Homo sapiens: one gene and its partners. The protein of the gene in region 4 interacts with the protein of the main gene of each other region in a pairwise test. Each region holds a gene or a part of one and is shown on either strand. Other genes may lie near its edges.

Region 1 (4,329 bases), on a different chromosome or scaffold from region 4:
TGGCACGATTGCTTTGTCACATTTACAAACGACTGATATAAATTCTCTTCCAAATTCTTACACAGTCTATAGCTTTGGTACATAATTCGATACATAATGATTGAAGAAGTATATTACTCCACAGGTAGGCATTACAAGTCACACAGCAAGGATAGGAATATTGAGTTTGGGAGGTCATGAAAATTTTGCCACCTACATTCTTGCCAGGCCAGAGCCAAATTTTAACTTCAAATAAGTTGTACATACAAGTTGCCAAGGGAGTTGGCAAACCAAGACAACAACGAAAGACCCCTGAAGGATCTATTACCATCTTTTGGGAATGAGGTGCTAAACAGTTCACCCCTGTTCTTCTATGGGGAAAGATGACATATTTTAGAGGAGGCCAGCATTTAAATTAGTATGGAGTTTAAAAAAGGAAACAAACTCTGTTTTAGTGAGTCAATGTATATTTCTCACATAAAGAATTTGATCTCAGAAAATGCTGTTTACTCACATACTTTCAAGATTTAAAATTTGCTTTTGATAAATAAATGCTGCACAGTAGGCCGTAACCATTGACAATATACCTGGAATGTTCCCAAAATCCCTGTAGATACGAAAGTCAGTATCTGAAGGAATGATTCCACTCTGAAAAACCTCCTGAGCCACCACAGAAGCAAAAGGGTGTTTAGCTGCTGAAACATAAGCTTGAACCAACCAAGGATTTTCAGGACCTAAAATGAAAGATGACAACACAATAGAAGGTATTCCGGCAATTTTTTTTAACATACTAATGTTTTTCAACACATAGAAAACAGTAAAAGTGGTGGTTTTGGGAGACGGGTCCAATATGTACCTTTTCATCCCTTTTTCTGTAGTTTCCAATGTTTCTCTGATATATGTGTTTGACTTTTAGAATAAAAACCTTTTGTGAAAATAAAGTATAAAATAACAGCAATACAAAAGTCTGTCTGAAAATGAAAGATCATTCATAAATCTATCATCCTAAAATGCCTATTATCAATTGTATATCTTTAATTTTCTTACTAATGTAGAATTGTGTGTATATAGCTGTACTCAAGATATATATACTTTGTACATTTGTTTTCACTTAACATTATATTAAATGCATTTTCCTATGTTGCTAGATACAAATTGGGTATACCTTATCTGAAATGCTTGGGATCAGAAGTATTTTGGATTTTTTACTTTTTCGGATTTTGGAATATCTGCATTATACTAGTAAGCATCCCTAATCCTAAAATCCAAAATCAGAAATGCTCCAATGAACATTTTTGAGCATCATGTCAGTGCTCAAAAAGTTGTGAATTGTGGAGCATTATGGATTTCAAATTTTCAGATTAGGGATGCTCAATCTGTATTATAATAATCATTTTGATAACTGCTTAACATTTCACTGAATATGCCATAAAGTTCCTTGTTACTTTTTATAATTTATCATTATTAATAATTTTCCATCTGTATCTCATACATCTACAGCTTTTTCAAATGGGAGTTTTTCCTGTAGGATAGTGGGATACATTGTTTTATAATTTATATAATTATATAATTATACGTATATTTATATAATTATAATTATATAATTATATGTATAATTGTATAATTATTCACTCTTCCCTCGCTGAAAAAGGATTATACATTCCTACTCTTGCCACATACCTTGTAATGCCTGCCTGGGGAATGAGTACATACTCTTCTGTACCTATTAACTGCAGGCGTGGCTACATGACTTGCTCTAGCCAACAGACTGTGAGGAGGAATGACATGACCCTCAACTGGGCAGAGTTTTCAAAGGCATTAACATCATTCATACTTATCCTTAACTTTGATTTGTGAGATCAATACATCCCTTATAGGGGCTTCTCCTTCAGCCTGGATCCCAGAATGAATAAGACACATGGAACATAATAACCGTGGACCATAACTGCAGTTATTCAGAAACCAAAATGCAACACGAGCAAGAAATAAGCCTTTGCTGTTGTAAACCACCAAGATTTTGGGGTTGTTACCACAAAACTTAGCAACATATTGACTGATGTAAACAGACCAAGTAACTGAATGTCAGGGAATCTAAGAATATTGTTTTTTTAACTTCACAGATTATAAAATTGCTTTCCTACATTTTAAAAAATGACCAAGGCTGGGTGCAGTGGCTCACGCATATAATCCCAGCACTTTAGGAGGCCGAGGTGGGCAGAGCACCTGAGGTCAGGCATTTAAGACCAGCCTGGCCAACATGGCAAAACCCCACCTCTACTAAAAATACAAAAATAAGCAGGGCATGGTAATCCCAGCTGCTCAGGAGGCTGAGGCAGGAGAATTGCTTAGACCTGTGAGGTGAAGGCTGCACTGAGCCAAGATTGTGCCACTGCACTCCAGCCTGGGTGACAGAGTGAGACTCCATCTGAAAAAATAAAAATTAAAAATTAAAAATGACCCAAAAAAGCAGAGGGACCCTATAGAAACAGACATACAAGTAATCCAGATACTGGAGTTACCAGACACAGATTCTAAAATAATTATGATTAATATGTTTTAAAAAACACAGATATCAGTAATTTCACCAGACAAGTATAATCTATTTAAAAGAGTCCTACAAATGGAAATCCTAGAATGAAAAAACATAACTGATGTTGCGAATTTTAATAAATGGGCTTAACACAAAGTTTAATACAGCAGAAGAAAGGATTAAAATTAAAGCATAAAAAGAAAAAAAGGTTGGAAAATACACAAATGTGAGTAATTGGAGTCCCAAAAGAACAGAAGATAGAATGGAGAAGATAAATGTTTAAAGACTTAATGGCCAAGAATCTTCCAAAACTCATAGAATTCAAGCCACGAATTCAAAAAGGTCTACAAACCCCAAACAAGATAAATATAAAGAAAAACTGTATCTGGCACCATTTACTTTTGAATACTATTCCCCACCAAAAGAAACCAAGCCTCCTTAGAGAAATGGCTGATTCCAGGTCTGGGACTAGCAAAGTACAAGGTAAGTTGAAACATCTGTGCCAGAAAGTAAGAAAGTGATCAAAAAGACATGTCAAAGGGGCTCAGGCACTGATTTGAAATAGACACCACTGGCCTAAACTGGGACAATTCATGCAACAAAATAAACAATAGTAACAGAATATATAGAGTAAAATTAAAATACATAAAGTACTGAAATAACAAAAAAAAAAAAAAAAAAAGGAAAATGGAAAGCCTTCCTTCTTGCAGAATTCCAACTATGACCTACAGGCAGAATGATGGAACCAGAAACTCAGCAGTAGCATTTGGTAAACATTGTAATAAAAATGCTTGGGGACAAGAGTCATCAATGATTGCTAAAACTAGGATCAAAGTTTTATGACAAACAGGATATTTACCTAAAGTATCTATCACTAAGGGGAAATCAGTAACTTGTACAAAGAAAGAAATAGTAGAAAAACCTGGCAAATAAATACCTTAATCAAACGATGAAAATGTAGTATCATTAATAATGAGACAAACAGATACCACATGCATCCTGATGTGATGCACTGAGGACACAAATACAAAAGGAAAAAGAACTATGATGATGGGGAAATACGTACATTACGAGATCTTATCATATTAAAATACTATTATTAAAATATTACTATTTGATATTAAGAAATTTATGCTAAAAAATACAATGAAAACCATACTGAAAAACAGGTAAAGCCAAACTATCATTAATTATCTTAAAACTTAGGATAATAGTTCCTCTTAGATGGGAGGGAGTTGTATTTGAGAAGAGAGGTTAAAAAAAATGCCTAGGCAGGCAAGGCAATCCACCCTCTTCCATGAGACAGAGTTAAAAAGATTTTCACCTTACAATAATTAAGTTTTCAACTTTATAATTAAATGCTATATTTGATCCTGGGTAGGAACCCAGATTTTTTTTTAAATGGTTAGGACATTAATGGAACAACTGGAAAAATCTGAATATGCATTATTATAGTTTAATATTAATATTTCTTGAGTGTGATCAATGTTCTGTTACAGAAGAGCATGTCCCTGTTTATCTGAGATGATCATCCTGAGATTATCAATTGACATGATTTTTCTCTTTATTCTGATAATGTAGTGAATTACACAGATTGATTTTCAAATATTATACCATCCTGTTGATCAACTTGGTTGGAAAGTATTATCTTTTGTATATATAAATATTCCTGGATTCAGTTTGCTAATACTTAATTTAGGACTTTTGCATCTAAAGTTGGTATTACCTACCCAAAATATCTACCAAAGCTGAACATATACACATCTTATGACCCAGCGATTCCACTCAGAAATGTGCATACACATACATGTGTACCAAAA
Region 2 (4,329 bases), on a different chromosome or scaffold from region 4:
AATCTTGGGGAAGTGTGACTAAGAAATCTGTATTTTGGCCCTGCTTCTCAAGGTCGTGAATCATGATGGTTACAGTTCACATTACTCACAGCTGTTGCCCTGTGCGCTGCACTTCGAAGTTTGCAAAGTGCACAGGTGAGCTCAATGGTTTCCAGTCTTGGTTTGGCAGAGAAATGTCTCCAGAAGCTCAACAGATTAAAAGAGATGGTAAAGGTGAAAATCAAGCTGCAGTGCTGAGGCCTCACTGTGGGGCAGGCCCTGGGGAGCTCTGATGAGCACTTCCACGTCTCCCTCCCAGCTCCTGCAGGGTGTGCAATCCTTATGCCTATTGTACAGACGGAAATCAAGACCCGGAGAGGCAGAGCTGTCTGGCCCAAAGTGACCTGGTTAAAACACGGCAGAACCAGGACCTGACCCGGCTGACACAGACCCTGAGACCGCAGGAGACACACAAGATACCCACAGAGTCACTTACCAGGTTGTCAGCAGCCAGTGACCTAGGAGAATCACCTGTGGCACAACAAGGGGGAGAGAAGAGGTCTGTGAACATGACCACCACAGGGGCAGGAAAGCGTCGGGTGCAGAAAACACAGGACGCCCCTGCGCCTGGCACCTCTGAGGGCCTCAGTAATGTCTGTTGAAAAGGCACACCAGCAACTGCAGGTGGCCCAGGAGTGAAGGAGGAGGAAGAAAGCAGGCCAGGCCAGGGAGGGGCCGCTTCATGCCTTCACCCCTCCCATGGGGCAGCTGACACCCACACCCCTTCCAAGCGTCAGAGGCGTATGAACCAGAGCAATTCCATCTTGAATAGGAGCTGGGTAAAATAAGGCTGAAACCTAGTGGGCTGCATTCCCAGATGGTTAAGGCATTCTAAGTCACAGGATGAGACAGGAGGTCAGCACAAGGTACAGGTCATAAAGACCTTGCTGACAAAACGGGTTACAGTAAAGAAGCCGGCTAAAACCCACCCAAATCAAGATGGCCACGAGAGTAACCTCTGGTTGTCCTCACTGCTACACTCCCACCAGCACTATGACAGTTTACAAATGCCATGGCAACGTCAGAAAGTTACCCTATATTGTCTAAAAAGGGGAGGCATGAATAATCCACCCCTTGGTTAGCATACTATCAAGAAATAACTATAAAAATGGGCAACCAGCCTGGGCGCGGTGGATCACACCTGTAATCCCAGCATTTTGGGAGGCCGAGGTGGGTGGATCACCTGAGGTCAGGAGTTCAGGACCAGCCTGGCCAACATGGTGAAACCCTGTCTCTACTAAAAATACAAAAATTAGCCGGGCATGGTGGTGTGTGCCTGTAATCCCAGCTACTCAGGAGGCTGAGACAGGAGAATTGCTTGAACCTGGGAGGTGGAGGTTGCAGGGAGCCGAGATTGTGCCATTGCACTCCAGCCTGGGCGACGAGAGAAACTCCATCTCAAAAATAAGTAAATTAATTAATTAATTAATTTTTTTAAAAAGGGCAACCAGCAGCCCTCAGGGATGCTCTGCCTATGGAGTAGCCATTCTTTTATTCCTTTACTTTCTTAATAAACTTGCTTTCACTTTACTCTATGGACTCGCCCTGAATTCTTCCTTGTGCGAGATCCAAGAACCCTCTCTTGGGGTCTGGATTGGGACCCCTTTCCTGTAACACAAGGGTGGGAGGCTCCTTTGTGGAATGCAGGGAATCTGCTCTGAAATCAGAAGAGGCCTCGATGGGAAGCGGAGCGGTGGGGACTCACGTGAGGGTGATTTCTTGGGACACTGGAGCTGGCGCACTGTGGGGGGCAGAGGGGAAAGCAGCTGTTGTGGCTGGAGAGAGCGGGCAAAGGGAGGGTAGCTGGGGACAGGTAGGGGGGCCTGAGGGCCTCGGGAAGGAGCGTGGGCTTCATGCCAAGTGCAACGAGGGACACCACTGAGACTTTTCTACAGGGAGATAGCTTGGTATGCCTTATGGTAAGGAAAAACAACAACAAAATCCCCCTGGCTATTTTTCTGGATTTCTGCAATATTCTACTTTTTTCTTTTTAAATTTGGAGACAGGGTCTTGCTCTGTGGGTCAGGCTGGAGTTCAGTGGCGCCATCACAGCTCACTGCAGCCTCAAACTCCTGGGCTTAAGTGATCCTCCTGCTTCAGCCTCCCCAGTAGCTGGGACTACAGGTGTGTACCACCACGCCCAGCTAATTTTTGTTTTTTTGTAGAGACAAGGTCTCCCTATGTTAACCAGGCTAGTCTCAAATTCCTGGGCTCAAGCAATCTACCCACCTTGGTCTCCCAAAGTGCTGGGATTACAGGCAGGAGCCACTGCACCCAGCTACAATATTTTACCCTTTTTAATGTCCTCTGTGTCCTTAAAATGACAGCCTCCTCTCCTGGAACTGGTCTCTACTCCGGGACATCAACAAGGCCCTGACTGGAAAGCACATAGAAAAAGGGCAGATGGAGGCTGGGCACAGTGGCTCACGCCTGTAATCCCAGAACTTTGGGAGGCTGAGGTGGGCAGATCACCTGAGGTCGGGAGTTCGAGATCAGCCTGACCAGCATGGAGAAACCCCGTTTCTACTAAAAATACAAAATTAGCCGGGCATGGTGGCACATGCCTGTAATCCCAGCCACTCAGAAGGCTGAGGCAGGAGAATCGCTTGAACCCAGGAGGCAGAGGTTGCAGTGGGCCGAGATCGCGCCATTGTACTCCAGCCTGGACAACAAGAACAAACCTCCGCCTCAAAAAAAAAAAAAAGGAAAGAAAGAAAAAGGGCAGATGGGCTGGGCGCGGTGGCTCACCCCTGTAATCCCAGCACTGTGGGAGGCCAAGGCAGGTGGATCACTTGAGGTCAGGAGTTCGAGACCAGCCTGGCTAACATGGCGAAACCCTGTCTCTACTAAAAAGACAAAAATTAGCTGGGCATGGTGGTGGGCACCTGTAATCCCAGCTACTCCGGAAGTTGAGGCACGAAAATTACTTGAACCTGGGAGGCAGAGGTTGCAGTGAGCCCAAAATGGGCCACAGCACTCCAGCTTGGGTGACAGAGTGAGACTCCATCTCAAAAAAAAAAAAAGAAAAGAAAAGACAGATGCCTTGGGAGGGCAGGCAGCTGCAGAAAGAGCTTCCAAAGGGAAGGGACCCAGGCTGAGCACAATGTATGAGCGGGGCTCGGCCAGGCAAAGTGGGGCCAAGCCCCAGGCCCTGCATGGGTGGCGGTGGGCATGGAGATAACTGAGGTCGGGGTGGGGTGGCACAGAGACTTTGGGAGGCCAGGAGCCCCAAATTGGGAGCTTCAACGGGCCTGGTGGTCAATGAGGGCCCTAGAAGTTTACTCAAGGGATTGAGGGGTCAGGCTGGAAGGGAGAGATGCCACATGCCTGGGGCAGAGGCAGTGTCCTGGCGCAGACATGGGCAAGGTTTGCGAAGAAGGCCGGGGTTTCTGGCCTGGGTGGAAGGGCAGAAGGAGCCCTCACCACCTGCAAAAAAGAACTGTGGGCCAGGTCTGGTGGCTCACGCCTGTAATCCCAACACTTTAGGAGGTGGAGGGAGAAGACTGCTTGAGCCCAGGAGTTCGAGAACAACCTGGCTAACAAAGTAAGATCCTATCTCTACAAAAAATCAAAAAATTAGCCAGGTATGGTGGAGTACATCTATAGCCCCAGCTACCTGGGAGGCTGAGGTGGGAGAATCACTTGAGCCAGTGAGGTCAAGTGTACAGTGAGCCAAGATCATGCCACTGCACTACAGCCTGGGGGACAGAGCAAGATCCTGCCAGAAAGAGAAAGTAAGGAAAGAAAGAAAAGAAAGAAAGAGAGAAAGAGAAGGAAGAAAGAAAGAAAAAGAAAGAAAAGGAAGGAAAGAAGGAAGGAAGGAAGGAAGGAACGAAGGAAGGGAAAGAAGGGAAAGAAAGGACAGAAAAGAAAGACAGACAAACTCACTCTGGCAGCAGAGGAAAAAGCATTTCTAGAAGAGTTACTCTTGACCACACACCAACTATGTGCCAGGCCCTATGCCAACCGTCTCACATGACCTTATCTGGACCTCACAGCAGCCTCTGGTACTATTATTCCCATTTCACAGATGAGAAAACCAGACTCAGAGATAAATTATGTTGATCAAGACTCCACAGGTAGCAAGTGGCAAAACTGGAATTAAATTTCAAACTCGCCTCCAAAACCAGTGCACCCAACCTCCCCGCTGGGGGCGCAGGCCTTCAGCTGGGAACTGTTTGGGCTTGTGAGAAAGGTCCACACATGGGGGCAGATGGAATCCAGAGCTGGTGGCTGAGATACTTCACCTTTACCTCCAGGGCCCAGGGCCAGAGTGAACCACAAGGGGCC
Region 3 (4,329 bases), on a different chromosome or scaffold from region 4:
AATTTCTAACTGCTTTTACAATTATTTTTGTTAAAAAGAGGGGGCAAATCTACTGGAAAAACCAGCAGTGTCATTTCAAAAGAAGAAAACCATGCATCTCCAATCTACTAGATCCAACAGGGAAAGGAAGTGCCTGAAGAATGGGAAGCAAATAGACATTGTTTTTCCATCCACATGTGGGGTAGGGGAGCTTTCTGCCAGCTACCCAGCTATAGTCTGAATGTTTGCTGGTATCCCCCACAAAATTCATGTTGAAATCCTAACCCCCCAAAGTGATGGTATTAAGAAGTGGGACCTTTGGGAGGTGATTAAGTCATGAGGGTAGAGCCCTCATGAATGTGATTAGTACCTTTATAAAAGAGACCCCAGAGGGCTAGCTTGCTCCATCCACCATGTGAGGAAACAGCCAGAAGGTGACATCTATGAACCAGGAATAGGCCCTCAATAGTCACCAAATCTGCTGGTGCTTGATCTTCACCTTGCAGAACTAGAAAAATCAATTTCTGTCATTTATAAGCCACCCAATTTATGGTATTTTGTATAGTAAACCAGACTAGGACACTGCCATGTGATGCAAAGAAATAATCCTATTTTGGAATTATTTATTTTACATAGAAAGAATAGCCTCCCTTTGGCAGATGTTTAATAACTAAATATTTAAGTAGAAAAGTATTTATGCTAGGGTCTCCCAGGATCTGAGGTCTAACTTTGATAAAGTACAAAGTGATATCTTAAAATTGTAGATAGTGTACTGCTAAGCTGATAATAAAAACAAGGAAGCAACAATAAAATGATAAAGTGGCAGATCAGCAAATGTACAATTACAGGATAATAAGATTCTAAGCTATATGTAAAAATGGTGAACTGGAAATTTCAATAAGAATAAGAAGGTGAATAAGCATGAGGTGAACCAGGGGAGATAGGCAGAGTCCAGTTGAGGTATTAGTTTGTAGATTTATCTTGTTTAATACCACTGTTATGGCAATTATTTGTTTTATTGACATATATTTGTTATATATTTGAGAAATAGTTCTATATTAACATATGTATGTCTGTATGTATGTACAGTTTTATATATTAAACAGTACTTTATAATAATTATATCAAAATTATCATATTAAACAGTACTACTAATATATGGCCAGCCAGTAAGAGTGAATACTGTCATATGCTTTTAGCCAATAAGAACTAGTGCACAATATTCTATTTTCCTAAATTTGAATGGTACTTACCAATCTTTTTGTTTCCCCAGTGCCATTCTGAAGAGATCTGAACCCACAAGAGTAGATAAAAAGCATGCAAATTTCTTTAATTTAATAAAATTAATTTATTAAATTTAATTTAATTTAAAATTCTTTAATAAAAAAAAGAAATATTTTTATTATTTCTTGGCTCAAGTGCCAAGAAATAATATCAACATAGATCGGTGATTTTCAACCTTGGCTTCACAATAGAATCATTTGGGGAAATCTCAAAAACAAAACTACTTATGCCCAGTCTCCACCACCAAACCAATTAAGTCAGCATCTCGGAGGTGGGGCTGTGATATCGGTATTTTTTACATAACTGCAACCACAGGTGTTAAATATATGTTCTTTGCTAAAGGCAGGTGAGAATCTTAAAAGGACTAGTTGAAGAAACATGGAAAAAATTGCCACTCAGATTGGTACAAATCCTTTGACTTTACAAGAGGCACTGTAAACATTACTGTAACCTGAGAAAAAGACTAACAACTGTATCAACTATAAGAAACTGGCCAAAAGCATTCTGCAATTTCAGGAATTTGCAAACAGCAATGTAAAGACTGCCAATATACAACACTGGGGATGTATTTATAGGGATTATGGTATGCCAACCAACACCTTACCATGCTGGTTCAGTTAGCATTACCATCCTCGAGAACACAATGCTAGCACAATCTTCATGGTTAAATAATAATCTTTCTGGCATATTCATACAATGGAATACTATGCAGCCATTAAAACAATGCTGTATAGAGTTTAATGATATGAGAAAATATTCATTAAACACTGTTAAGTGGAAAAAATTAGGTGAAACAGTCTTACGGTATTACCTATTATTTAATGTTATACACACATACATATGTTTAAGGTCATCCACCAAAATGGATATAATTTGAGTACAGATTATAGTTAATAAACACTGTTAACATTTTGGTCATTTTGCTTTTATGTATTTACTGAACTTTCTACAATATGCACAAATTAATTTTGTAATGTGAAAAATCATTCATTCATTACATATTTGCATCCAGTGTATCGATTATGTGCAATTCTGATCTGTGAACCTTTAAGAAAGGCAAGATGAGGCTGGGTATGGGGGTTCACGCCTGTAATCCCAGTACTTTGCGAGGCCAAGGCAGGTGGATCATGAGGTCAGGAGTTCAAGATCAGACTGGCCAAGATGCTGAAACCCCATCTCAACTAAAAATACAAAAATTAGCCGGGTAGGGTTGCAGGTGCCTGTAATCCCAGCTACTCGGGAGGCTGAAGCAGGAGAATCGTTTGAACCTGGGGACCGGAGGTTGCAGTAAGCTGAGATCACACCACTGCACTCTAGCCTGGGCAACAGAGTGAGACTCCATCTCAAAAAAAAAAAAAAGAAAGGCAAGATGGAATTAGAAAAGATTCTTCAGAAATGATCAAATGAAATTATTAAGTGTTCACTTTCTGCCAGCCACTGTTCTGAACACTTTACATTATTTAACTCGTTTATTCTTCATGAGGTGATTAGAATTATTATGTCAATTTTTTACTTGAGAAGTCAAACTTTTTAGCCTCTAAGCTAAAAAGGGAGGAACTAGGATCTGAATGCAGGCAATCTGGCCCTGGAGCCCCTACTCCTAAGCATTATGCTACCCTAACTCTATAATTGAAATTGTTTCAATAGTAGATCCACCTTTTAGGTGAAGTCTTACTATGTAATTCTAACTCATTGGAAATGCTCAAGAAACCATGGGGCAGCTCTGATCTAGATCTCACAAAACAACCTAACCACTGTTTTACATACTGACCTTTAGTTTGCTTTCAAGATCAAAGTCACAAAGGGCCCACAGTTAGCCAGTCCACCTAAAAATATTTAGATATCCTCATTGTGTTTTCTACTTCATCTAGAAAAGATTAATGAAATTTGTATATGATATAATTATGAGATATCTATTAGTAATCCAATAATGCAGTGGATCAGAATAACTGGAAAAACTGTGAAACAAATTTGAGGTTATCCAACAGCAAATGTAGGATTTGGATCTATATATTACAAAAGATAGAAGGTAGTAACTAGACACACAACCACAATACTTTTCGTTGCTGTCACCTAAGACTGCTGAACAACTAGTTGTATCAATAACAACTTTTGCCTTCATAGCTCTTTATCATTTTCATAGCTGAGTTCAGTGGGTATCAATACCCACTGAACTCAGCTGGTCAAAGACCAGCAGCACCAAGAACCAACCACTTTCCTCTAAAAGCAGTTACAGTAAGTGGATTAATCAACCCTCAGTGATTGGGAGCGTGAGACAATTTAACTGTATAACATGTTATCTATCTGCTTTCTTGGAGCTTCCTGCTGCCTATTTGGTGAGATCTAACACTTTCTTCAAGTCTGGACTGCCCTTCACGATGCCAGAGGAAAATGAAAGAAAATACAATAATTTTGAGGCAGAACAGAAAGGTAGATAAAGAAATTGCAAAAATCCTAAAAGGAGAAACATGCCATAAAAGGAATGAGGAAAAAAGATAAACAGGGTATCAGTTAGGGAGTCCACATTTGAGAAGAAAAGCTCATCTCTCTTCCTGCCCTAAGTCTAAATTTTCAGTTAAACACAGAGGAAACACCCTGTATAAAATACTCTGTCTACATTATTTTGTAAATTTTACTCTCTATTGTATTATCTGAATAACTGTCCATCTTCGGTAATATGGCAGCTTGTACAGGCACCTAGTAAATACCTAAAATATGATATCTATTATCAGTGTAAATACTGAAAGTACACTGATAAGAAAACAAAAACATACAAAAATGAAAATACATTGAATTATCTGGCCTGGACAATTAAGGTGATTAAATATAAAACTGTTTGGTTGAGATATCTGTTTATTAAAAAGTTATTCCTGGACTCCTAAGAGGTAAGACATCATTAAAAGGCCTTAGAACAAGGCAGTAAAGTACAGTGGTTAGGCACTAAAGTACAGTGGTTATTAAGTTTTTGTCTGAGTCGACAAAAACTTAATAAAAACCACTGGGTCTCAATTGGGGTGATTTTGCCCCCATGAGACATTTAGCAATGTCTAGAAATATTTTTGTCGT
Region 4 (4,329 bases):
ATAGAGTACCATGTGTAATGAGCCTTAAAGGTCCTTATGATCCCCTACTCTAGAGGCTGAATTAGGGGCGTTATGTTTAGGGGCAAGTTGGCCCCTTGGACACCTTCAGTGTTGAACTCATGTTATTCTGGGTGGCCAGGGGTACTGTCCAATATCAAAATAACTTTAAAAGTCAGTCCCTTACTGGCAAGATATTGCCTGACTCCAGAGACAAAGCCATTGATGGAAACAATCCAGAAACAGGGTTCTCATCGTCCAGGCCTTCTTGCTGTACAACCAAAAGACAGGCAGCTGGTATTTATCTTTTCACTTAAAGCCTCAGAAGTTAGCAACTTTATAGATAAGGGCAGTCCTGATTTTCAACCCAACTGCATTTGTACAAAACAGTAGAGTTAGCCTATCCTTTCCTGCCTTAAATCCTGGTGCTGCTTGCTTCTCTTCCTAATAAATGTCCTTCGAGCATCCTTTTTTTTTTTTTTTTCTCCGTAATAGGGCACTTCTGTCTGCATTAAAAACTCATTCAGGCAGATATACTTTCTCTTCAATGATTTTTTCTTAATGGCGCCTGGGAACTGTCTGCTGTCTCTTGGTTGGCAGAAGCTACTTCGCCTATTTCTTGACATTTTTTAAGCAAACCTCTTCCTAAAATTATCAAACCATCCTTTGCTGGCATTAAATTCTCCAGCTTTAGATCCTTCACTTTCTTTTTGCTTTAAGTTGTCATATTTTTCTTGAATCATATTAGATGTAAGTATGCCTTTCTACAGCAATCCTGCATCTACATAAAAGCTGCATTTTCAATGTGAGATAAAAAGATGTTCTGCAAAAAGTGCAAGCCTGCTGGAGTAGCTGCAGTGATGGGTTCATGACTATTCTTTTCTTTGTTTACAATGGTCCTTACATTGGATTTGTTTATCTTGAAATGGAGGGCAAACGCAGCCGCAGACCTCAATCCATGGTATGTATCAGGCAATTCAACTTTTTCTTGTAATGTCATGACTTTTCTCAGCTTCTTAGGAGCACTTCCAGCATCACTAGTGGCACTTTGTATGGGTCCCATGGTGTCATTCAAGGTTTATGGTATTGCACTAAACATGATAAAAAAATACAAGAGAATTCCAAGAGATCAATTTTTACTATGATACACAATTTACTAAAGAGATGAACCACTCACACAAAGATGATTAGTGTCACATGACATTTTATGCTCAATACTTGTAACACTTGAGTTCACTGCAATAGCAACAGGTGGCCACAAAATTATTACAGTAGTACAGTATTACTAGAGTTAATTTTATGCCATTATGATTTAATGCATCTTTACATTTCTTTACATTTCTCTCAACTGTAAATGGTGCCATGTATGGTCTATAAATATTTGTAAACTTTGATAAATTTTAACTCTTTATAACAGATTTGTGCATATTTATAAACTAGTATCTATCTACATATATTTTATGCGTTCACGACATATCTAACTTTTTCTTAATGTTTTTGATATTTCTAGGCCATGTGGTTCATCTGTTTTTTCAAACTGTCACAAATCTTCAAAAAAATTTTCAATATATCTATGGAAAAAAAATAGATGTATAAGTGGGCCCATGGAGTTCAAATCTGTGTTGTTCAAGGGTCAACTGTAATTACAAAATTAGATGGAGGAAAATAGCAACTCAGAAACAAGCACTTCGAATAAGAGCAGTTTTAAGGATGATTTCACTAGTTGCTGGGATGACAGACATGTCAAGATCCTAATAATGAATTTTTTTTCCCGTTTTTTTTTTTTTTTTTTTTTTTTTTGAGATAGGTTCTTGCTCTATCACCCAGGCTGACTGCAGTGGCTCTATCATGGCTCACTGCAGCCTCAATCCCCCACCCCTGGGCTCAGGTGATCCCCCCACCTCAGCCTCCTAAGTAGCTGTGACTATAAGTGTGTGTCACCACACTCGACTAATTTTTTTGTTCTTTGTAGAGATGGGGTCTTACTATGTTGCCCTGGCTGGTGTCAAACTCCTGGGCTTGAGTGATCCTCCTGTCTCAGCCTCCCAAAGTGTTGGGATTACAGGCATGAGCCATCACGTCTGGCCAATAATGGAAGTTTTTTAAATAAGTAAATTGGCTGATGTCTGCTTAAGCCCACCAGGAATGATGCAAAACTAATTTATTCCAAATAAATGTTTTAAAATCTGAGCAAAGAATCCATAGGTTGAAGAAAGAAGAATAAAAATATGGTCAGGAAAGAGAAAGGAACATTAGTCAATTTTACATCATCAAGTCAAGGTCATTAATGTAAAAATCTTACCTGCCCAGTCCCAACAGCTCCACAGTACACCACGTTGGAGCCCATGCACCCCAGCAACTCTTGGGCAGCAGCAAATTCATCTTCAACTCCTCCCACCATAAACGTGAGGTTCCCAGATCGTGCAGCTCCTACACCTGAATCATTTGGGGGTAAAGGGATAGAAGCAAAAGAATATATTTCTTAAAATGTTTAGGCAGGTAATAAAATTAGAGAAACCAACTAAAAACATCCTGCCTCCAATCTGTATTTATGCCAGGCATGTATAAGATACTCTAAATCTCTACAGAAATATTCAGCAATCAAGTATCACCCAGATTAATCACAAACCAAGAGAGACATACAGATTCAGTTGTACTCTCAATCTCAACTCACCTTAATCATTTTGGCACAATCATGGCCTAACAGATAAGGGAACTTAAAATGTAAATGTTATTATTCCCATGCATCTATTATTCTCCTAAGAAACCTACTAAGTTATAGAAAGTATACAAAAAAAAAGTTTTACCTGGGCCCTGATCAGCAAAGGAGCAGCCAGAGAGAGGTCTGCTGCCCACGTTTGGATTCGGGGTTCTTGCTCACTCACCCACTCTCCAAATACTATCTATAAGTGAGATCTACAAAGAGGGAGACCTGGCTCTTTGTTCCTTAAACAAGTAGGCATTTCAGATGGTAGATTCTTTTTTTAAGGCAAGGAAAACTTTGCTTATTTTGACTGATTATTCTCATATGTACTTTTCAATATTATTTGATTTTTCTTTTCCTTCCTGCTATACATCTTTTGGGCAATTTATTTTTAGTGATATGAGCAAGAAGAAGAAATAAACTTTAACACTGACTTCACTACTCCTTAGTAGCTTTTAACAGAGGCTTAATGCATGTTCATTCATTCTAATGATTGGAGAAAGAACCTTCAATTTAGCACAGAAAATATAATCTAGACTTGTCCTAAAAGGGAGAGGAAAAGCTTCATTCATCTAAATTTTTATTAACTATAAAATAAAACCAAGAGCGCTATTACTGTTTTTAATATTGAAAGAAATCTTGATTCATAATTTTCAAGTTAGGCTTTATTTTTCAAAACTTCCCAGGCAAGTATGTGGAAGAACTTATTTTACAGTACAGTAAGAACAAAGAAACTGTAATTGTCTGTAGTATGTATCAAATCTGGCCATTAGACAGCTGCAGGTAATGGCCTGCTTTTGGATTTAATGTGTTCAATGAAATACAGTATTTATATATTTTTTAAAAGCCCAAGTGAAGAGATACCTATTTCATTCAAATTGTGAATATTTTGCTATTGTCAAATCAAATAGCTTTCTATTTTACAGTTTATACTATTCATAAGCAATTATTAAAAGCCAAAAAAGTCAGCATTATGCTAGCCAAACAATCTTGGAAGAGTGAGTGCCCACATGTTATGAAAACCTGAGATGCTCACACATATGGTTAAATTACACCATTTTACAATATCTTCACTTTGGATTATATACAAAAACCCAATTTATAAAAAATGCTTTCAATTAGCCAATCTATGTCATTCAAACATTCTTATAACATTAAAGTGACTGCTGTTTTGTTAGTTTCTAGTTTACTTTATCAAGATGGTAAACCATTAATGTTTTATAATTATTTCGCTCAATTTCTAGACATTTTTATTTAAACCATATAACCACCATTCCTCCTAATCCTGTTGATCTCACCTAGAGAAATTAAGTAGACGATTTAAGTCAAAGCTTACAAGCAAATCCAGCACTATCCATCATAGATCAATAGTTTTGCTTTGTATTTAGATTACAGACTGCTAAATAGCTTCGGAGTCATTTATTTAAAAAAAATTAATGCTGACAATGGTTCTCAGCTGGTTAGTCTTTTGACAGGTGTACTTTCTCACTTATTCAAACACATATTTTAAAAAGCAGAAATAAGTTGCTTAAGCAAGAGAAGACCACAAAAGAAAGAATAATTTATCTTTTAATTCAGAGGTCTGTGGTAGTTCGACTCTTTCCTCATATTGATGTGGTATCATAATT
Region 5 (4,329 bases), on a different chromosome or scaffold from region 4:
TTAAAATTCACATCATTTCCTGCTTTGTAGATGTTTAACCCTCAATGCTGCATCCTTGCTTTGCAATAAATTTTCCCAAGTGTTTCAGGCTGTGCCAACATAGTTTTTGCTTCCCCAGACTAAGCAGTCAAGTTACAGTGTTTAACAGTTCAAAAATTTAATGAACTATAAGACACACTAAAAGATGTTTGGATTTTAGATCGTTATAATGTAGTATTCAGGCCTTTTTTAGGCCAAGGATGATCGCTTGGGATTATTTTGTTTTTTGCCAGCCTGGCGTGATGCTGTGCACACCGTCAGTTCTTAATAAACATTGACTTGCCAGATGAAACTTCTTCCTGGTCATTCTACCATATGGAGCTATAATACATTTTTCTGAGAGATAATGGCCCATCAGCCATACTGTTTTAGATGGGAGGGTAAGAAAGATTTGTATGTGAATGGCATTTCATAAGTGCTAGTCAAATTACTGAAGAGAAGTCTCTGAGTCTTTCAAACGCCAGCATCTTCTGACACACTGGGCATTAGCTGCATGCAGAAAACTAGTTAATTCAGGCACTAGGAGTAAAGCACATGATGAAATTAAAAGACCTGACGCCTATCTGTGAGGAGCTCCCCTGTTAGCAGGGGCAGTTGAAAACACGTATGTGCAAAATGATTCCAAATCTGAGCAGCAAAGAAACAGTGGCATAACCTTTTTTTTTTTTTTGGACAATTGAAACTGGAATTTAGGTGGTAAAAACAGCACTAGTGGAGCAGGGCACAATGACACACGCCTGTGATCCCAGCACTTTGGGAGACCAAGGCAGTGGATTGTTCAGGAGTTCACCATCCTGGGTGACATGGTGAGACATTGTCTCTACAAAAAAATATAAAAATTAGCCGGGCGTGGTGGCGTGAGCCTGTGGTCCCAACTACTCTCTGGAGCCTGAGGTGAGAAGATCACTTAAGCCTGGTAGGTCAAGGCTGCTCTCTATCCTGGGTGACAGAGTGAGAGCCTGTCTCAAAAAAAAAAAAAACACGAAACAAACCCCAGCACTACTTGGCAGGAGAGCTTGTGATTGGCAGAAAAGAGAAGGGAACGCTCTCACAGCTGGCGAGGACTTGGCTCCTGCCTATAGTCCACTTTCAGAGCAAAAGTAGAGCCACCAGGATGGGCGTTGGTGTTTCCCTCTACAGTGTGGGTAACAGGGCAGGCCCTGCGCTCAGTACCCACATTCCCAGCTCCACTGGACTTCCAGCTCTGTGATCACTGGACACACTTCCAGCTGTGTGATCTTGGACAAGTTATTCTACCTCTCTGGGCATTTTTTCATCTATAAAATGGGGAGGCCTGTGGACAGATTCCTTGAGCACAGGAGTTGGAGACCAGCCTGAGCAACATGGTGAAACCCTGTCTCTACCAAAAATACAAAAAAGAGAAAGAAAGAAAGAAAAAAGCTGGGCATGGTAGCATGCACCTATGGTCCCAGCTACTCAGAAGGCTGAGGTGGGAGAATTGTTTGAGTCCAGGAGGCTAAGGTTGCAGTGAGCTGAGATCGCGCCACTGCACTCCACCCTGGGTGACAGAGGGAAACCCTGTCTCAAAAAAAAAGAAAATGCAGAAGCACAGCCTCCTCTATCCTTAGTTAACTCTCAGTCTACTTGGAGAGGTAAACTATAGATAAAATAGCTAAAGGACACGAGCAAACATTTAACACTGCATTAAGGGGAAGCCATGGAAAGGAACATTTGGAACCAGCTAGGTTAGTGAGTAGTCAGAGAAAGCCTTTAGGAGACACCCAATGAGGTCTTGAAGGAATAGCTTTTCCTAAGAGGAGATCATGATACAGAGACAAGTATCGTTGGAATGAACGATACTTGTGGAGTGGAACTCATTTGGAGAGTGACAGATCTGAGGAAGTTCCTCTTCTGTGTGGACAGAGGCCACCCCAGGCCTTTGCTTTGCTTTTTCTTATCCATTAGGGTCCGCTGATTCTTTCACCAGCCCCTCCGGCTGTTCTGGCTTGGCCTTGGCCAAAAGACAGAGCAGTGAGACCCCAGGAACTGACTGATAAGCAAAGTTAATCAAGTGCCTGTGTTTCTTTCACAGGACTCTGACACCACCATACCAATGGACGAATCACTGCAGTTTAACTCCTCCCTCCAGAAAGTTCACAACGGCATGGATGACCTCATTTTAGATGGGCACAATATTTTAGATGGACTGAGGACCCAGAGACTGACCTTGAAGGTGGGGTCCCTGCTGGGGGACAGAGAGAAGGCCTCTTGTTTTAGCCTCATCCAACAGTTTAGTAACTGTGTTTATATTTTGATTACGTGTCCTCAAATTGTGATATTTTGATGACAAGACAGAGCCCTTGAGTTTGGGATCCTTTCTGTTGGAGTTGAGTTATTGTGAGCCTGAAAGTACCCAGTTCCTTTGCCAGTGCTTGAAACAAACCATGAAGTGGCCTCTCTTAGGATCCAGGTCTTTTCCCATTTACTGAACTTATCATGAAAGTGAGTGCTACTACGAGGGGTCCAATCACAGGCTGAGAAATTGTGTTACAGAATCTACTCTTGGAAGAATGAAGACGTGGCTGTCCTTTGGTACCTCGCTTTAAGGTGGCTTTCCCTTAGGACCCCTACTGTGGACTGCCTTATAACTAAAACCTTTTGTATTTTAGTAACTGAATCCCCACTGTGCAGTGTTAGGGCTGCCTGGTTGTTTGCAGTAGATTAGAGCTTTAGAAGCTTCTAGAGCTTCTAAAGCCCGTGCTGGTGATCCCAGCGACTCTTCACTCCCTAGCCTTAGGTATTCCTAGAAGCCCTGACCAGTTGGCACTGCTGAGACTCCAGCCCCTGGGAGTGGTTTACAGAAACATTACACAGACTCTGATGTCAGTCATGATGTTTCAGCCTCTGCCCTTTTCCTGTATCAACCCTGATGGATAATAGGGCGTGGGTTCTGTCTGTTATCAGGGTGTGGTCCCCTGTGAATGAAGCACTCCCAGCCACTGAGCTGTGAGAAACAGTCACTCGGAAGTGTGAGCTTTATCTTAGTTTTTGTTGGATCATGTTGAGTCTGTCAGCTCCACAGGACTTCAGTACGTTTCTGAACAGTCCCTGCCATCTCTACGGGGGAGAGGGTCAGGCAAGCTGCAAGTGACACTCACCTCCTGCTGACAGTTGCAGTGTCTCAGATGGCCTGGAAGGGTGGTCTCCAGCAGCCTGCTGGGCGCTCCCCTTTCATGAGAGCCACCTGCAGTGACCTGAACTGATACATGTTGATTAGTCTGCCCTTTCTTTAGAAAACTGCTACTCTCCTTTTCATATCTCAGAAAAACAGTAGAGGCCTTTTAGGACCAAACTCCATGTCACACTGATGAAGAGCCAGTGGGGGTTAGAGCGTCCTGTTAAGGCACATGCTAACTTCCCACTCAAGTCTGGCAGCGCTGGGGCATCAGCACACCTCTTGCCACCCACACTGATACCAGAGGGGAAGGCTGTGAGGTGGCTGGGGGTTGAGACTTGAGGTTTCTAACTTTCCTCTGCACACCTGTGGCTACCTGGTGTTTGTCTCTTGATTCCCTCCACCTGCCTCACACCCTGCCTCCGTCGGGATTTTCCACCTACACCATTCAAAAGGAACATAGGAGAGGGCATGAAGGGGCTAGGCTGAAGCACTCTGATGACTGGGGCCAATTTGTGGCTGAAAATGAATACATTTTTTGAAATTTATGGTCATTTTCAAGTGATTTAGAAGGTTGATCCTTAGCCTCATACAGTGATGAAATAATCTGTGTGTTCAGAGCCAAGCAGGACTTTAGCAAGAGTCTGATTGTATTGTCACTATCTCGGGGAAAAAAAAATACAAATACATTTCTCTGATCTCTGATGGCAATGAAGTTTGACTTGTAATTTCTCTGGCTGAGGCTTCTTAATTGCTTTCTGGGCAGAATGTAGATTTTGGATTCCTGTCCATGATGCCTAATGTTGATCTCACTTTCCTTGTTTCTCTCAGTTGCTCATTAATGTGTATTTATTAAAAAAAAAAAAAAAGGATATGGGGCATGAGGTTAGATGCCATGCATATAAGTTGCAGTGGGTGATATGTGCTGAGTGACTTGGGGTCTGCCCCGGCATTCACTTATACTTGTTTCTTACTAAGAAATTGAATGTGCTTTAAGCTGAAAATTAGAAAGCAGTAGGGAAGGACAGGCTGGATGGTTTGGGTTGTTGGTTTAGGAATAAAATGCCCTTTTGTTTTGGTGGTGGGTGATGCCATCTATAGAAGGGTTTTAGGTCATTGTGTTGGTGTCTTTCCGTCTTTCCCACTTGAGACCC
Region 6 (3,697 bases), on a different chromosome or scaffold from region 4:
CTCAGCCTCCCGAGTAGCTGGGATTACAGACATGCGCCACTACACCCGGCTAATTTTTTGTATTTTTAGTGGAGATGGGGTTTCTCCATGTTGGTCAGGCTGGTCTCGAACCCCTGACCTCAGGTGATCCACCTGCTTCAGCCTCCCAAAGTGCTGGGATTACAGGCGTGAGCCACCATACCTGGCCGCTTACATTGCTTTTTGCCGAGTGATCTAAGGAGGTGTTCTTGGAGACTCCAGCCAAAGGTCAAGGCTGTAGTGCTGTTGCATTTTCTTTCACAGCCAGACCAGTGGCGTCACTTGGGGAGCTGAGAAAACAAGCACAGCAAGAGTGGGCAGCTGTAGAGGAACTGGCTAGGTCTGTGCTGGGAGTATTCCTGCCCAGCATCATCTTTGCGTGGGTGTAGTCCCTTAAATGTGTGAGATATTGGAAGAGACGTCAATTTACTAATTCTGAACTGGAGCTCGTGCTCTGCTTGAGGGAACTTCCTCCTGGAGGGCATGTCCTCATACAACCAAATTATTTATGAAAACATGGCTTGGTATAAAAATTATCCAAATAGAAGGAAAAAAAATATGGCTTGAGGGTGCAGAATTAGCTTGCTGAATGTTGAAGAGTGTCAGTGGCCATGCCTTAATGCCCTTCCCTGGAGATACTTTGTTCTGAAGAACTAAGGGTGTGTATTTAGCACCAAGGGACCCCAGCTGCTGATGTGAAGGTGAACTTGGACTGGATCTTGTTCCTTAGCTCCTGTCATTTTATTTCATTTTGATTCCTGTGGCTAGTGGGAACTTCTGTCATTTTAGACTGGTTAAAATGCCTAACCAGAGCTTTATTTTCTGATCTTGAGTCCACATCTTGTAGCTTGGTTAGAACTGGAGTTTGCTAAGCTTCTGTAGCAATAATTGCATGGGTCACCTCCCTCAGTGGGCAGCTCCACTCATTCCATACTGCTTTACCTGTTTCAGTCTGAGTGGGAGATCTTTCCTGACCTTGATCCCAAATTCCAGGTGCTTGTTACTGTAGCTCTGTCTTCAGTTCAGCCCTTGTGCCAAGTATTGGGGAGTGAGCTGTGACCAAGCCAGACACATGTCCTGCCCTCATGGAACTTACAGTTTAGTGAGAAAGGTGGAGATTAATTAGAAGCATGATGAAGTTTATGAACATGGCAGGCATATTGCCATGGGAGCATATTGCAAGGGGATCAAATGTGGCTTAGGGGTGAGAGGAGGTGGTCCTGGGGAATGGTCTTTAAAGTCTTAAAGGGTGAGTAGAGTTAGCCAGGCCAAGGGAGGGGTGTCTGAAGGCTCTGACGGATTGGAAGAAGTCTGTGTGAAGAGGGGAGGAGAGCTCAAGGTGAGGCAGGAGAGGTAGGGCTGGGCCACAGGTGAGCCAGGTTAAAGATCTGGGACTTTTATCCCCAGGATGAGTGGTTGATAAGGGTTTAAGTGTATGTTGGGGGAGGGGGTGGTCAGATTCCTTTATTTATTTATTTACTAATTTTTTTGAGACAGAGTCTTGCTCTGTCTGCCAGGCTGGAGTGCAGTAGCATGATCTTGGCTTACTGCAACCTCTGCCTCCAAGGCTCAAGCATTTTCCCTGCCTCAGCCTCCCGAGTAGCTGGGATTACAGGCGTGTGCCACACGCTTGGCTAATTTTTGTATTTTTAGTAGAGATGGGGTTTCACCCTGTTGGCCAGGCTGATCTGGAAGTCCTGACCTCAGGTAATCTGCCCGCCTTGGCCTCCCAGAGTGCTGGGATTACAGGTGTGAGCCACTGTGCCCACCCAGCCAGATTCCTATTTTTAAAGGTTCACTCTAACGCCTTTTTAGAGATTAGATTAGGGATGGAGAGGGGGAGGGGTTATGAGAGGGGAAGCTGATAGACCAGTTTGGAGGATGTTGCAGTATCCCAGGCATAAGATGACCATGAGGTAGATTTGGTAAGGGGGATGGAGGGTGGCCCCGGGGATGGAGAGAATGGATAGTTTTGAAGGAAGTGGGTTAGACAGGCTTTGAAGTAGATGAGCAGGACAGAAACAGGAGGTAGGGGTGGTTTAGTTTCAATCTCATAGGAGACAGAGGAGGAAAGCAGCATTATAACTCTCCTGTCCTCGCTGTTTTGCTTATCGCAGGGGTGCAGGTTTAAGGACCCCGAAATTTCACTGAAATTCACTGGCCGTTTTTAAAACCAGAAGATGCCTTGAGATTGTAGGGGAAGGAGGTGGAAAAGTAGAAGGCCAGAGTGGCTATTCTGTGAGGGATTGATCTCACGGGGTCTTGCAGGGGTTGGTGAAGGGTGAAAGATAGCAAAGAACTGGATTCTAAGACCTTTAGATCCTTCCTGGGCTCTCCCATTGAACTAAGAGTATAGTGGGTGCCTAGTGTGCTATGTTGCAGAGCTCTGTTGGGGGACAGTAGGAAGGGAAACTTGGGTATGAACCTGGGAAGAGGGACTTGAGGCCTCACTGGGCATTCTCTCTGCACCTGTGGCATTGGAGAAGAAATCAGAATTTGCTCTGTGGGGTTAAGGGATGAAATGAGTGCCCACCTGCACAGTCTAAGGATTTACCATTTTCAGCCGGAAGTGGCCTGCCTCTTCACTGGTGAACAGTCCCTAAATTTCCAGCCTTGGTCTCACACCAACTCTCTGGATTTTCTGGCCGCAGGAATTGGATTCAAGTACGTGGCTCTGGGAGACCTCATCATCCTCATCACTTTTGGCCCGCTGGCTGTGATGTTCGCCTACGCCATCCAGGTGGGGTCCCTGGCCATCTTCCCACTGGTCTATGCCATCCCCCTCGCCCTCAGCACCGAGGCCATTCTCCATTCCAACAACACCAGGGACATGGAGTCCGACCGGGAGGCTGGTATCGTCACGCTGGCCATCCTCATCGGCCCCACGTTCTCCTACATTCTCTACAACACACTGCTCTTCCTGCCCTACCTGGTCTTCAGCATCCTGGCCACACACTGCACCATCAGCCTGGCACTCCCCCTGCTTACCATTCCCATGGCCTTCTCCCTTGAGAGACAGTTTCGAAGCCAGGCCTTCAACAAACTGCCCCAGAGGACTGCCAAGCTCAACCTCCTGCTGGGACTTTTCTATGTCTTTGGCATCATTCTGGCACCAGCAGGCAGTCTGCCCAAAATTTAAGGGGACAAGTAGCTCCCCCCACGACATGTCTCCCTTTCTTAGAATATATTAAAGTCAGAGTCTCTGAGGAAGGAATGTGATTTGGCAGTCAGGGTACTAAGCATGGGTGGGAACTCCTGCCTTATAAAAATTGTTTTTGTGTTCTTAAAGATAATATGTTGTTTTTCTGTTTTTTGTTTTTTCCATTTTATGGGGAATTTAAAAACCATTCTTGTATCAGAAGGTGAATTAGGCGCATGGTCTTTGTTTTATTAATAATTTCCACTAGAGGGTGTTCTCAGGTCACTTTGCAGTGAAGTGGACTTAGTTCCTCCTTGTTCTGTACAAAATGTCTCCAGACTTTGTAAAGGAGCTGCCCAGTTTGGCCTCCTGTCCCGAAAAGACCCTAATAACTAGGCAGAGTGTTGTCCTGCTTTCTTCGTCTCGTAGGATGTGCTATGATTGGTGCCAGGCCTCACTAACACAGGGGCTACCTGTCTCTTATTCTCAGCACCTGTGTCCTGAGATACGCTGCCTGAGACAGAGAGAGTCCCTCATTAA
Region 7 (4,329 bases), on a different chromosome or scaffold from region 4:
CTTGTGGGACTAGAGAGGGCATCTAGCGGTCCTGGAGACATGGCTGGTGGGTCTGAGGGAGGTGAAGAGGGGCCTCCGCTGGTCCCTGCATCATCCTGCACTGAGGCTTCCAGGGATGCCGCATAGCCCAGGGATAGCGCCAACTCGTCCTGAGCAATGGGCACCTGGCAGGAGGGACGGGTTTTAATGGGCAGGAGTGACCGACCCATTAGGGCTTTCTCCCCATCCCAGCTCCTCTCCCCAGAGCCCTGTTACCTTGGAAACACCAGAGATGATGAGAGTGCTGCGCTTGGTGGGTGTCTTCTTGGCCACCCGCCCACTGGGCTCTGTCAGCTGGCGAATCGCTGTCTCTGCTACAGGGTCCAAGCCGTTGGAAAGGTGGCTGTCCCCTGCTAGGGGTGCAGAGAATGAATAACCTGACTTCTCCCTGGCTCTTTCTTGGATTGGAACTCCTCCTATCCCACCCAGAGTACTTTTTGATGCTGGGGCACCAGGGCCAACCCACACTCATGCACCCCATTCCCCACTCACGGCTGCTGCTATGGGAGGTATTGCTGGGGCCACTGCTCTCACTCAGCACAGTTGTCGTCTTCTCGGTCACCTCCACCTTGGACGGGGAGCGGGAGGGGGAGTCTGGTGGGTGGGGGAGGGTCAGTGAGCTGGGAGTTGCTTCAGAGTGGCCCCCACCCCTACTGTCTTTGTTGAGATGCAGACTTTGGGTGACTCAGAGGGCAAGAATGATTAAAGGGTGATTAATCACAAGGGTGATTAGGAAGATGCCGTGGGGACTAAAAGACACCCCAGGAGCTAATGGGAGTGTAGGAAAGTGCCATGGGGCCTGCTGAAGGTGTGGGGAGATGCTATGAAAATATGGAGCGGGGACAGAGGGGGTACTGGGGCTCCCTGAAGTTGGGGCAATTCAGTGGGGCCCCTATAATGGCAGAAGTGCCATGGGGGCCCACTGAGTGGGGTAGAAATGCCACAGAGGCCTCTGGGTTTGTTGGAGGACCCCAGGGGGTGCTGGAGGGCTGAGGGTAGCAGGATGGACAATTATAGTCAGCTGGGGCTAAGGACACCTGTGAAAAGCCAGAGGGGAAGCTGGAAGGTAGGAGTGCAACAGTCCTGTATGAGGAGGGGCAGGAGGATCCAGAAGGGTGGCAGAGTGAGAGGAATTGCTGGGGAAATGGCAGGAGGTAAGGGAAAGTTTGGAAGAGACAAAGATTGGGAGGAAGATGTGGTAGGACTGGAATGGAATGTCTGAAAACAGGGGGAGTTGGAATTAAGGCTCTCTCCTCTTTCACTGTCCTGCCTTGGGTCTGCAGTCCCGGGCCCCTGGCTAGAGCTGGGCTCCCAGGCTCCTTCTCTTTACCTAATTTGCCGTCTATACGGGGCCGGGACTGGACAGTGGTGACTGTGGTGACAATGGTGCCATCGGGCATGATGGTCCGGTCAAGCTCAATCTTCTTGGTAGGTGTGATGCTGGGGCGTGGAGTGGAGGAGGTGGGAGTACCCAGGTTCCGGGGAGAGCCCTCCTCATAGTGAAGCTGCCCAGGGGTGGGAGAGAGAAGAGACAGAGCCTCGGAGACTGCCCATCCCCTGTGTCCTCCCACCTACCCCAGGGGTCAGCTTCTCACCTCCACTGCCATGGTGGCTGCTGGTCCCAGGGCTTTCCCTGGCCCTGGGGTGAGTGGGCACAACTGTCTTCGAGACAGTGGTCTGGAGGGGGAGCCCACAGGCAGTGTGGCCTGGCCTAGGAGTTCGGCTGGGGAAAGGGATGGCACTGTGAGCTGGGCCCATGGCCAGACCCCACTCTGTACCCACCCAGGGGTGCCCCTCCCACCCCTCACTTACTGTCTCCACAGCTGCTGCTCCTCAGCACTTTGAGGGTCAGCTCCCGGCTCTGGGGGCCCAGATCCCTGTGGGACAAGAGGAGATGGGGCAGGAAGGAGAAAATTAGCAAGCTGAACCCACACTTGAGTGGATCACAGGCCAGAGGCAGAGAGCTGTGTACATAAATAAAACGGCATAAATGCTCCAATCAGATTCTCCTGGCCTCCAAATTCTCTCTCGTCCCAAGAGAAAGGGACAGGGCCTGAGTGGAAACCATGCTTCTCAGCTATGCATTCAAATCCTCCCTGGTCCTGCTCTTCCTGTCTTGCCAGTCTCTCAGTTGCAAGCCACCCTCTTTCATTTGCTCCAGCTCTTCCCTCTGCCGAGAATACTTTCACACTCTGATGAAATCCTACTCTTGCTCTAAAGTGTGGTTTAAATGTCATCTCCTCCATGAAGCCTACTCTGATCCTTATTCCCTCATGGGAATTAATCTCCCCCCCACCTAGGCACTCTGACGGCACATTACATAAACCTCAACTGGAGCGGTTTTACCATCTTCTTTATGTACACCTGTCTCTGCCTCAAGCTTGTCATTGACCCAGGGGTGGGGGCTGTATCTTGGTCAAGTCTGTATCCCTAAGACCCACGCCAGGGCCTGGCATACAATAGGAGCTCACGCCAAAGGCTACTGAAAACAGAGCTGATTCCTGCAAGGACTGTGCTGGAAAGGTTTGATCCTCTCTGCTCTGGAGCATGGGGTCGGGGCAGGGTTACTCCTTACAGTGCCAGGTCTTCTGTCCACTCCACCTCGGATCCAGCCCTCGCGGGCTTGGTCCACTTCTGCTGCATGGGGTTGTCGAGTTCAGCTACACAGCACAGTTCCTCGGTGCCTGTGATGAACCAGAAGTTAGAAGATGCTCAGATCAGAGATGGGAAGTCACTGCAGAATAAAGAGGCTGTACCCTTGGCAGAGGGGCAGAGAGCATCTGCAACCAACCATAGCCTTGGCAGTCCCGCAGCCACTTCCAGCTCTCACCTTCCAGCTCATTTCCCAAGTGAGATGCCCGAAGCTGCCGTAGGAATAACCGGTTAGGTCTGGGGATGGCTGGCTGAGCCTGGGGCATCATGGGTGGCTTCTCACTGGGTACCTAAGAGCAGAAGAAGGTCCAAAGAGCAAGAATCCTGACATAGCACCCTAGGAACAAGGTGCATGCAAATCTTTTGCTTTGGGTGCCAACTCACCAGGCCTCCTGGGGCAGAGCAAGCCCTGAGGTTGACCATCATGGCTGGCTGGGTGCTGACTATGGCATCCTTGATCAGTTCCTCAATTGTGGAGAGCTCCACTTGTTCTTCACCTCTCTGCAGAGAGAAGAAGGGAACAACAAGGAGGTGGATCCCCCACCTCTGCCTCCCTCCCCGTTCTGCCTCTTCTCTGCCAGCTCTGCCTCCTTACCTCCCTGGCCTGAAGCTTGGGAAGCACCGTTAGGCTGAGATCTGGGCGATCAGTGAAGGCCCAGGATATGAGCAGCCCCTCACCAGGGATTTCCTCCAGGTTGACTTCCAACTACAGACAGGAACAAAGTGACTGGGCTGACTTGCCCCATTTACCCAAGGACTCCTAATTCGAGGACTCTCCCTTCCTGAATTCCATCCCAGAGAGGAAACAAATGGAAGAAGCTGAGCCAATGGAACCGCCCCTGCCCAACTCAGTTTCCCACATCCCCTTCTACCTGTGTTGGTGGCAGTGTCAGAGTGACGTGGTAGGTCTCCATGGAGACGGCAGCGGGGGACTGCTGGGTCACAGAGACTGGGAACCGCACCTCCTCAGCAGAGAGCTGGCAACGCAGCACCTGAGACCGGCGAGGTGGGTCAGATGTGGGGGAAGGGTGCTCACCCTGCTTTGAACTGCCCTGTAATAGTTCAGCAGACCCCTCCCCACTTCCGTTTTCCTAAGGACTTCATGTTTTCAGGATCATAAATCCCTAAAAGAATCAGATAAATGCCAAAGACTCCTCTCCCCAGAAAAATGCATATAAACACACATCCAACATTTTGCACATAACTTCAATGGGATTCTCAGACTTCCTGAAACCAATCCTTAGATCCATAAGGCATTCACAGACTCCAGGTTAAGAACCTCTGGACTAAAGGGAGCCCTTGGGGTCAGTCCTTCTTGGACCCCAAAGAGGGCAGTGCCCATCAGACCCTTACCATGGTATGCTCAGATTGGTCTACGCAGGTCACATGACTGATGCTGGCTCTGGGTGGGAGTTGGGGCACCTCCTCAAAGGCGATTTGGATGGAGCTCTGAGGGAGTAATGTGGGCATTGGATCAGGTCTCTGGAGCTGCCCCCCACAGGGTTGGCCTGCTCAGTTGCTGGCTGGACTCTGCCACTGCGGAGGCCTCAGCTGCAGGCTGGCTTCTGGCCCCTCCTTGGCTCAGGGCTTTAAGACAGGAGGTAGTCCCCTCAAGGCCTGCCTCTCCAGGGGCCTGTA

Evidence for each region.
Region 1: the proteins of HIBADH (region 4) and ERMP1 interact in binary tests that used the Homo sapiens proteins (3 or more experiments, as listed by UniProt).
Region 2: the proteins of HIBADH (region 4) and AGTRAP interact in binary tests that used the Homo sapiens proteins (3 or more experiments, as listed by UniProt).
Region 3: the proteins of HIBADH (region 4) and SEC22B interact in binary tests that used the Homo sapiens proteins (3 or more experiments, as listed by UniProt).
Region 5: the proteins of HIBADH (region 4) and GOSR2 interact in binary tests that used the Homo sapiens proteins (3 or more experiments, as listed by UniProt).
Region 6: the proteins of HIBADH (region 4) and UBIAD1 interact in binary tests that used the Homo sapiens proteins (3 or more experiments, as listed by UniProt).
Region 7: the proteins of HIBADH (region 4) and C2CD2L interact in binary tests that used the Homo sapiens proteins (3 or more experiments, as listed by UniProt).

The regions. Positions count from the first base shown.
Region 1 is NC_000009.12:5,812,323-5,816,651, forward strand, and holds part of ERMP1 (endoplasmic reticulum metallopeptidase 1), read right to left. Parts: intron 714-4,329; coding exon 567-713; intron 1-566. UniProt on the Homo sapiens protein: Within the ovary, required for the organization of somatic cells and oocytes into discrete follicular structures.
Region 2 is NC_000001.11:11,741,984-11,746,312, reverse strand, and holds part of AGTRAP (type-1 angiotensin II receptor-associated protein), read right to left. Parts: intron 1,781-4,329; coding exon of another isoform or gene 1,745-1,780; intron 511-1,744; coding exon 476-510; intron 187-475; coding exon of another isoform or gene 90-186; intron 1-89. UniProt on the Homo sapiens protein: Appears to be a negative regulator of type-1 angiotensin II receptor-mediated signaling by regulating receptor internalization as well as mechanism of receptor desensitization such as phosphorylation.
Region 3 is NC_000001.11:120,169,633-120,173,961, forward strand, and holds part of SEC22B (vesicle-trafficking protein SEC22b), read right to left. Parts: intron 1-4,329. UniProt on the Homo sapiens protein: SNARE involved in targeting and fusion of ER-derived transport vesicles with the Golgi complex as well as Golgi-derived retrograde transport vesicles with the ER.
Region 4 is NC_000007.14:27,540,668-27,544,996, forward strand, and holds part of HIBADH (3-hydroxyisobutyrate dehydrogenase, mitochondrial isoform 1 precursor), read right to left. Parts: intron 2,434-4,329; coding exon 2,300-2,433; intron 1-2,299.
Region 5 is NC_000017.11:46,932,937-46,937,265, forward strand, and holds part of GOSR2 (Golgi SNAP receptor complex member 2), read left to right. Parts: intron 1-2,092; coding exon 2,093-2,233; coding exon of another isoform or gene 2,234-2,344; exon of another isoform or gene 2,345-3,886; intron 3,887-4,329. UniProt on the Homo sapiens protein: Involved in transport of proteins from the cis/medial-Golgi to the trans-Golgi network.
Region 6 is NC_000001.11:11,282,975-11,286,671, forward strand, and holds part of UBIAD1 (ubiA prenyltransferase domain-containing protein 1), read left to right. Parts: intron 1-2,669; coding exon 2,670-3,157; 3' UTR 3,158-3,697. UniProt on the Homo sapiens protein: Prenyltransferase that mediates the formation of menaquinone-4 (MK-4) and coenzyme Q10. MK-4 is a vitamin K2 isoform present at high concentrations in the brain, kidney and pancreas, and is required for endothelial cell development.
Region 7 is NC_000011.10:119,109,915-119,114,243, reverse strand, and holds part of C2CD2L (phospholipid transfer protein C2CD2L), read right to left. Parts: intron 4,141-4,329; coding exon 4,045-4,140; intron 3,684-4,044; coding exon 3,564-3,683; intron 3,398-3,563; coding exon 3,287-3,397; intron 3,193-3,286; coding exon 3,076-3,192; intron 2,982-3,075; coding exon 2,870-2,981; intron 2,724-2,869; coding exon 2,615-2,723; intron 1,917-2,614; coding exon 1,852-1,916; intron 1,763-1,851; coding exon 1,635-1,762; intron 1,545-1,634; coding exon 1,370-1,544; intron 634-1,369; coding exon 532-633; intron 393-531; coding exon of another isoform or gene 390-392; coding exon 256-389; intron 165-255; coding exon 1-164.